Homo sapiens: one gene and its partner. The protein of the gene in region 1 interacts with the protein of each later gene in a biochemical or structural test. Each region holds a gene or a part of one and is shown on either strand. Other genes may lie near its edges.

The links.
Region 2: the proteins of MYLIP (region 1) and CNPY2 form a complex in vitro, tested with the Homo sapiens proteins (2 studies listed by BioGRID).

Annotation. Positions count from the first base shown.
Region 1 is NC_000006.12:16,126,808-16,130,556, reverse strand, and holds the start of MYLIP (E3 ubiquitin-protein ligase MYLIP), read right to left. Parts: upstream 1,472-3,749; 5' UTR 1,235-1,471; coding exon 1,148-1,234; intron 1-1,147. UniProt on the Homo sapiens protein: E3 ubiquitin-protein ligase that mediates ubiquitination and subsequent proteasomal degradation of myosin regulatory light chain (MRLC), LDLR, VLDLR and LRP8. Activity depends on E2 enzymes of the UBE2D family.
Region 2 is NC_000012.12:56,309,243-56,312,991, forward strand, and holds the end of CNPY2 (protein canopy homolog 2 isoform 1 precursor), read right to left. Parts: intron 3,258-3,749; exon of another isoform or gene 2,173-3,257; coding exon 1,969-2,172; intron 1,813-1,968; coding exon 1,716-1,812; intron 1,354-1,715; coding exon 1,310-1,353; 3' UTR 602-1,309; downstream 1-601. UniProt on the Homo sapiens protein: Positive regulator of neurite outgrowth by stabilizing myosin regulatory light chain (MRLC). It prevents MIR-mediated MRLC ubiquitination and its subsequent proteasomal degradation.

The DNA of each region.
Region 1 (3,749 bases):
CTAAAACAAAAAGGAATGCAGCCTGGATGAGCAAATGGTACGTATCAAAGCAAACCCAACGGCTCCCTGAGGCTAAGATTGCTGGTGCTTTTTACAAAGTTCAATGGTGTTACAATTCCTGATCTAAACTGGAAAAACAAAGTTCCACGGCTCCAATGATACCAAACCACGAGCTCTAGTATGGAGGCTCATAATTCCTTTTAACGTCTAGGGCATGACCAATTGCAATAGAGAAAAAAGGAGTCCTCAAAAGTAGCCTTCCAAAAGATGAGGAGGGGAAACTACAGGGTATTTTCCTTCGTATTCCAATCACCGGAATTCCCTCCACCAGCATACTCTGCACAGCTGATTTTTGGCGACTTATTATCTGGGCAATTTTAACCATTTGGACTCCAAAAATCAAACACATTGAGGGAACACGCCACAAGTGTCAGCTAAGCTTCACAAGCGGTTTTCCAAACATCTCAGAGCTAGAGGGGTTGAGGGCACAGCGTTTTCCTGGGATCACATGTGCTGTCTGCCATACCACCTCTGCACTATTTGGCACCGATCTCCCTCACTGTTAAGGAAACACATGCTTAAAAACAACCGAGCAGTAGATGACCCAAACCTATTCCTCCCGTCCCCCGCAAACCCGGAGATGCAGGTGAACGGTGCATTTGAGAGCAGCAGCCTGAGAAGCAGCGTGAGACAAGGGCCCGGCTTGTCTGCCAAGAACCCCTGGGGCCCGAGACTGCTTCGAGCCACTCCATCCCATCCTGGCACGCGGGTGGCACTGCCAGGCGCCGCGGGGACCCGACAGGCGGCATCACGCACATACCTGCGGCAGGTGTGCGGAGCCGCCTTCTTCCGGGAAAGTGCTGGGTTGGGGGGATGATGGGGCGCTGGGGGGTGGATCCCGGCTGCGGGCTGCGCCCGGCCCTCAGCGCTGGGGACCCCCGCTGCGCGCTTTCTCCGCGCACCCCACGCGCGCCAGGAGGAGACCGCGCGCCCCACGCCCGTGGAGAGGAGGGGACGCGCTCCCCCCGGCTGCCGCCGCAGTGCCTCCCGGCCCCTAGTAGGGGGCGCGCCAGAGTGCCAGGCGTCGCTGCGAGGCCCCTCGGCCTCGCGGGACCCGCCGGGGCCCCTTCTTGCCCCTCGCCCTCACCTGGTTGAGGCAGTCCTCGCCGTTGGCTTTCGCCTCCACCTCCACCTCCATCAGCACCGCGTCCGGCCTCGTCACATAACACAGCATGGCTGGGGCTGCCGCTGCCGCCACAGCCGCCTTCTCTTTGGTGTGCGCGGGGCTGCCGCCTTGTCACTGGTGGGACCCAGCCCCGGACTCGGAGAGGGCTGGCCCTCGAAGGCTGCAGCTCTGCGGACCCTTGTCCGGGGCCCCGCGGCCGCCACTCGCGTCCCCGCCACCCCCTCACCCGCTGCCCGCCAGCTGCCCCTGTCCTCCGCGGTGGCGCCGCACTCCAGCAGCCCAACTGCCTGCGCTGCGACAGGGACTCTGCTGATATAGCGGCCCCGCCCCCTTCAGCTCGGGTCCCCGCCAATCACGGCCTCCCTGCCCCTCCTCCCCCGCCCGATCAGCCAATAGCGGCGCCCCTCGACCGCGGCCCCCGCCTCCCAGAGCCGGCTGAGTTTCCCTGGCCGCCCCGGGAGGTGGCAGCTTGCGGGCGCCGAGTGCTGCGGGAAGGGAGGGAGACCCCGGAACACACCAGCCGCCTCTGTCCGCTGGGCGACGCTGCTCAGAGTGAGCGATCGCCCGGGGCTCCAGGCGGGGACGCCTTTCTGCCGTCTCGAATTTACGGTGATTAAACACCTCCAAGCTGCCACTGTTCTTCAAATATCTTGGATCACTCTGAGCACGCATTTCGGTTGTGAAAGCAAAAAGGAAAAGGAGCAACCCAAAGCCTAAAGAAAACTGTTCTCGTCCGGGCATGGTGGCTCACGCCTGTAATCCCAGCACTTTGGGAGGCCGAGATGGGTGGATCACCTGAGGTCAGATTCGAGACCAGCCTGGCAAACATGGTGAAACCCCCGTCTCTACTAAAAATACAAAAAAAAAAACAAAATAGCCAGGCGTGGTGGCGGGCACCTGTAATCCCAGCTACCTGGGAGGCTGAGGCAGGAGAATCGCTTGAACCCAGGAGGCGGAGGTTGCAGTGAGCTGAGATTGTGTCACTGCACTGTAGCTTGGGCAAGAAGAGCAAAAAACCCTGTCTCAAAAAAAAAAAAAAAAAAAAAAAAAAAAAGAAAAGAAAAAGAAAAAAGAAAAAAAAAAGAGAAAAAGAAAACTCTTTTCCACCAGGATTAGCCACAGTGGGTTGCTTGGAGGCAGAATTGTTGTTCCTTATTAAGACCTCATCATTGAGAAAAACAAAATCTGAGTATGAAAGTTTTTGCAGCTGACCAGTGAGCCAGGTGTCTTGGTCTAGTGCTGGTGTGTTACACTCCGGAAGGGCTTCTCCTTACTCGTTCTGCTGAATCAAAACGCCTTACAGGGTACCAGGCCCTCTCTCAGGTTGCTCATTCTACCTCCTGTCTTATCTCACTCATTCATTAAACATTTGTGCAGCACCTGATACCCTGCCTGTCCCTTCTCACAGGCAACCAGATGTTGTCCTCGTCTTAAGGTAAGGTGCTCATCTCCTGACCTAACAGGTGGCATTACTGCAATATTAGCTATTAAAGGTCTACAACCCTTCACTCATTTACCGCTTGTTCCTCTTTGCCAATATATTACATAGCCTACCTTTTTGATTTCTTTATAGGAGCCAGATGATGTGGGTTTCAGCCGTGGAAACTTAGCAAACTTACTTCAGGCCAGCTCGATGGCTCACACCTGTAATCCCAGCACTTTTGGAGGCCGAGGCAGGAGGATCGCCTGAGCCCAGCAGTTTGAGACCAGCCCGGTTTCGCAACACAGCGAAACCCCATCTCTACACAAAATACAAAAAATTAGCCAGGCGTGGTGGCGCCTGCCTGTAGTCTCAGCTACATGGGAGGCTGAGGTGGGAGGATCACTTGAGCCTGGGAGTTCGAGGCTGCAGTGTGCTGTGATCCCCCTACTGCACTCCAGCCTAGGCGACAGAGCAAAAGACCCTGTCTCTAAACAACAACAACAACAAAAAGAAAACAACGAAAGAAAAAAAAAGAGAAAACTTACTTCATCTGTCTGAAGCTTGGTGTTGTCAACAGTAAAATGGAGATGGCAATATCTGCTCTGTCTCCACCCAGCATTGTTGGGAAGCGCAGCAAAGATAATAACGTTCACAAAAGCATTTGAATGTCCCCGTGTATGTAAGGGGAGCTATAAGTTCAGTGCCTTCACTGCTTAATGATGACTTTTCCTGTCCCTACCCCCCTTCACGAGTCCCAAGGATCTGTTAGTGGCCTTTATTTCCGAACAACCAGGTACGATATCAGAGCCCAAGGCTAAAAAAAAAGGAGGGATCCTCCCACACACAGTTCTTTGCTAAAGCTGACCGAGTAAAACTGTAAACTGTCCAAGTCCTAACCCCCACTGTTGCAGAGGAACAGGTGCACTCTCACATCTTTCTGTCTTATAAATACACCTCATGCTATTGTGGGCTGAAACAGTCCCTTCTTGTATTAACTGCAGTGCCTATTCCCTGAATTCCAGTTTACTAATAATCTGGGGAATTTATCTGGAAGATAGCGTTTGGTTCATTCCTTGTCTACTTTATGCTTAATTGCTAGAAGTTTCAGAAGAGGAAGAAGAGGCGAGGGGCAATAGGGAG
Region 2 (3,749 bases), on another chromosome or scaffold:
AAAATACAAAAAAATTAGCCAGTGCAGGCCGGGCGCGGTGGCTCACGCCTGTAATCCCAGCAGTTTGGGAGGCCAAGGCGGGCGGATCACGAAGTCAGGAGATCGAGACCATCCTGGCTAACATGGTGAAACCCCGTCTCTACTAAAAATACAAAAAATTAGCCGGGCGTGGTGGCGGGTGCCTATAGTCCCAGCTACTTGGGAGGCTGAGGCAGGAGAATGGTGTGAACCCGGGAGGCGAAGCTTGCAGTAAGCCGAGATCGCGCCACTGTACTCCAGCCTGGGCGATAGAGCGAGACTCTGTCTCACAAAAAAAAAAAAAAAAAAATTAGCCGGTGTGGTGGCGGGCGCCTGTAGTCCCAGCTACTCGGGAGGCTGAGTCAGGATAATGGCGTGAACCTGGGAGGCAGAGCTTGTAGTGAGCCGAGATCGCGCCACTGTACTCCAGCCTAGGCGACAGAGCGGGACTCCATCTCAGAAAAAAAAAGAAAAAAAGAATTTCCCAAAAGAAGGTATCCTTTAGGTTTTCATCCCTATGCCCCAGTCTGGAATCTCTACACACAGAATTGTGGACAGACTTATAGTCCAGATTGACAATGGCTAGTGATAGATACACTTTATTGTTGCCACTGGCATCAAATTTAAAAGCTTAGGCTGGCAAGCAAGGCCTCTCATTAAACAACCTTCCTTACCTCGTCTGTCCCTATCCGATAAAGCCCTTACTTTTCAGCTGAGTTGGTCACATCCATTTTCCCCTTCCTGTCTCTGTTCTTGCTGGTCCCTCCATCTGGATGGGCAGGGAAGGAAGAATAATGCATATCCGTTATTTCCTTCAAGACCAAGCCCTGTCTTACTTTATGTTTCAACAGCCATGAACACAAGGGATTTCTAGAATTCTACACTACCATACACTATGTTCCCCTGCTTCCTCATGGAGGTTCCTCTATTCTCCACAATTAGACTCTAAAGACGTGGTATTGAGTGGGCACTGACTGAAAGCTTATCTAGTTTATGAGTGGAGTGGAATCTCAGAAGGTAGAAGAATTAAAGGTTCAGGCCTCTCCTACCTTTATCCTGTATCAATCCCAAAACTCTTCTTTCTCCTCCATTATCTTTCCTGTCTATATAACTCCTTATCTTCAAGCTTAATGTAAGGGCAATTCCAGGCATGAAAAGACAACACAGTTTGTACTTTTGGTTTCATATTTTTTCAGTTAATTTCAGTAAAAACATAATATATAAAAGGCATTGCCACCATTTTCCCCTCCTGGGGGTGATCCATCAAGCCAGTGTGGGCTGCTCCAGTGGTTCATAGCTCATCATGCGATATGTGCAGGGCATGGTCACAAAGATCTGCAAATGGCAAACAATTTAAAGGAATATGCCATTCTCATACTGATATCTGCCAGTATCAAGAAAATTTCCCAGACCAAGCTGACACAAACACACACCAACCACCATTCTGCAGAATATATGCTTATAAATGATAAAACATCCCCACTGTCCTCTCACCTGTATCTCAGGGTCAAGGGGACACAAATTCTGAAAGCTGACAGAAAATGTGGAGGAACACCCCAAGTCCCTAAGCCAAGGGAAATGGAAGACAGCTCTTGACCTAATACCAGAGGTTTCTGGGATGGGGGTGTATGGGTGAGTTAGGGAATGTCAGGTTCCACAGAGCTACTAGAACAGGAGATAAAGTGGGGGCAGCTTACCTGTTCGCTTACTGCAAAGTTTGTCTTTAACATTGTCAGCCTCTCGGGAAAAGAATTCAATGAGTTCATCCTCGTATTCCTCCACAATGCTCTCACACTGCCAACCCAAGGGAGAAATGGGTGACACAGGGCAATAAGAGGCCTCTTGCCTTCACTTCCAAAGAGGAGGACAAGGATATCAGCCTAACTTTCTAATTGGTTCTCCAACAACCCCTTAATGTCCAAGAACCAGCTACCGATTCCCATAGCTCACCGCAAACTTGAGGGTGCCGCTAATATCTGAGTCGATTCGGATGCCTTGTAGGTCCAGTTCACTGGATTCTCCATTCCGGCCCACTACACGTACGTAGTTCTTGCGATGGGTGGAAGGATCAATCTGTTCCCCATACTCCTTCATCCGGTCACATATCTCCTCCAGCAGCTCTGTGAGGTGGGCCTCTGAGCGGGCATAAGGCACCTAGAAATGTCCTCAGCCTTGGGTCACTCTCTTCTACCTCTGTACATTAGTAATTTATATCCTTACTTTTCTTTCCAAATCTAGCTCCAACAACCTATTCTAAAAAGCTTTCCCTAATTGATTTTAATTAGTTTTGTTTGTTTGTTTGTTTTTTGAGATGGGGTTTTGCTCTTGTTGCCCAGGCTGGAGTGCATTGGCGCCATCTCGGCTTATTGCAACCTCTGCCTCCTGGGTTCAAGTGATTCTCCTGCCTCAGCCTCCTGAGTAGCTGGGACTACAGGCATGCACCACCACACCCAGCTAACTTTTGTATTTTTAGTAGAGATGGGGTTTCTCTGTGTTGGTCGGGCTGGTCTCAAACTCCAGACCTCAGGTGATCTGCCTGCCTCGGCATCCCAAAGTGCTGGGATTACAGACGTGAGCCACTGTGCCTGGCCTAGTGTGGTTTTCATTTATTTTATTTTATTTATTTATTTATTTTTTTGAGACGGAGTCTCACTCTTTCGCCCAGGCCGGACGCAGTGGCACTATCTTGGCTCAGTGCAAGCTCCGCCTCCAGGGTTCACACCATTCTCCTGCCTCAGCCTCCCGGGTAGCTGGGACTACAGGCGCCCACCACCACGCCCAGCTAATTTTTTGTATTTTTAGTAGAGACGGGTTTCACCGTGCTAGCCAGGATGGTCTCGATCTCCTGACCTAGTGATCCGCCCACCTTGGCCTCCCCAGGTGCTGGGATTACAGGCATGAGCCACCGCGCCCGGCCTGGTTTTAAATTAATATGGTTTACTTGATAGTTTCAAAGTACTTCTTTTTTTTTTTTTTTTTTTTTTTTTTGAGACAGGCCTCACTCCGTTGCCCAGGCTGGAGTGCAGTGGTGTGATGACTGAGGCTCACTACAGCTTGGATCTCCCAGGCTTAGGTGATCCTCCCATCTCAGCCTCACACAGATGCACACCACCACACCCAGCTACTTTTTTATATTTTTTTTGTAGAGACGGGGTCTTGCCATGTTGCCCAGGCTGGTCTCGAACTCCTGTGCTCAAGTGATCTGCCTGCCTTGGCCTCCAAGAGTGCTGGGATTACAGGTATGAGCCACTGTACTTGGCAGTAGTTTCAACTATATGATTTTATTTTACCTCATTGTACAATTCTTTTTTTTTTTCTTTTTTTTTTTGAGATGGAGTTTCACTCTTGTTGCCCAGGCTGGAGTGCAATGGCGCGATCTCGGCTCACCGCAAGCTCCACCTCCCGGGTTCAAGTGATTCTCCTGCCTCAGCTTCCCGAGTAGTTGGGATTACAGGCATGTGCCACCACGCCCAGCTAATTTTGTATTTTTAGTAGAGACGGGGTTTCTCCATGTTGGTCAGGCTGGTCTCAAACTCCCAACTTCAGGTAATCCACCCGCCTCAGCCTCCCAAAGTGCTGGGACTACAGGCATGAACCACCGTGCCCGGCACCTCATTGTACAATTCTAAGAAACAAGACAGTTAACATTAGCTCCAAGTTATAAACAGAATTTTTTGATTAACCTGATCAACTTATACTTCTAATTTCTATAGATGAAGATAATTTTTTTT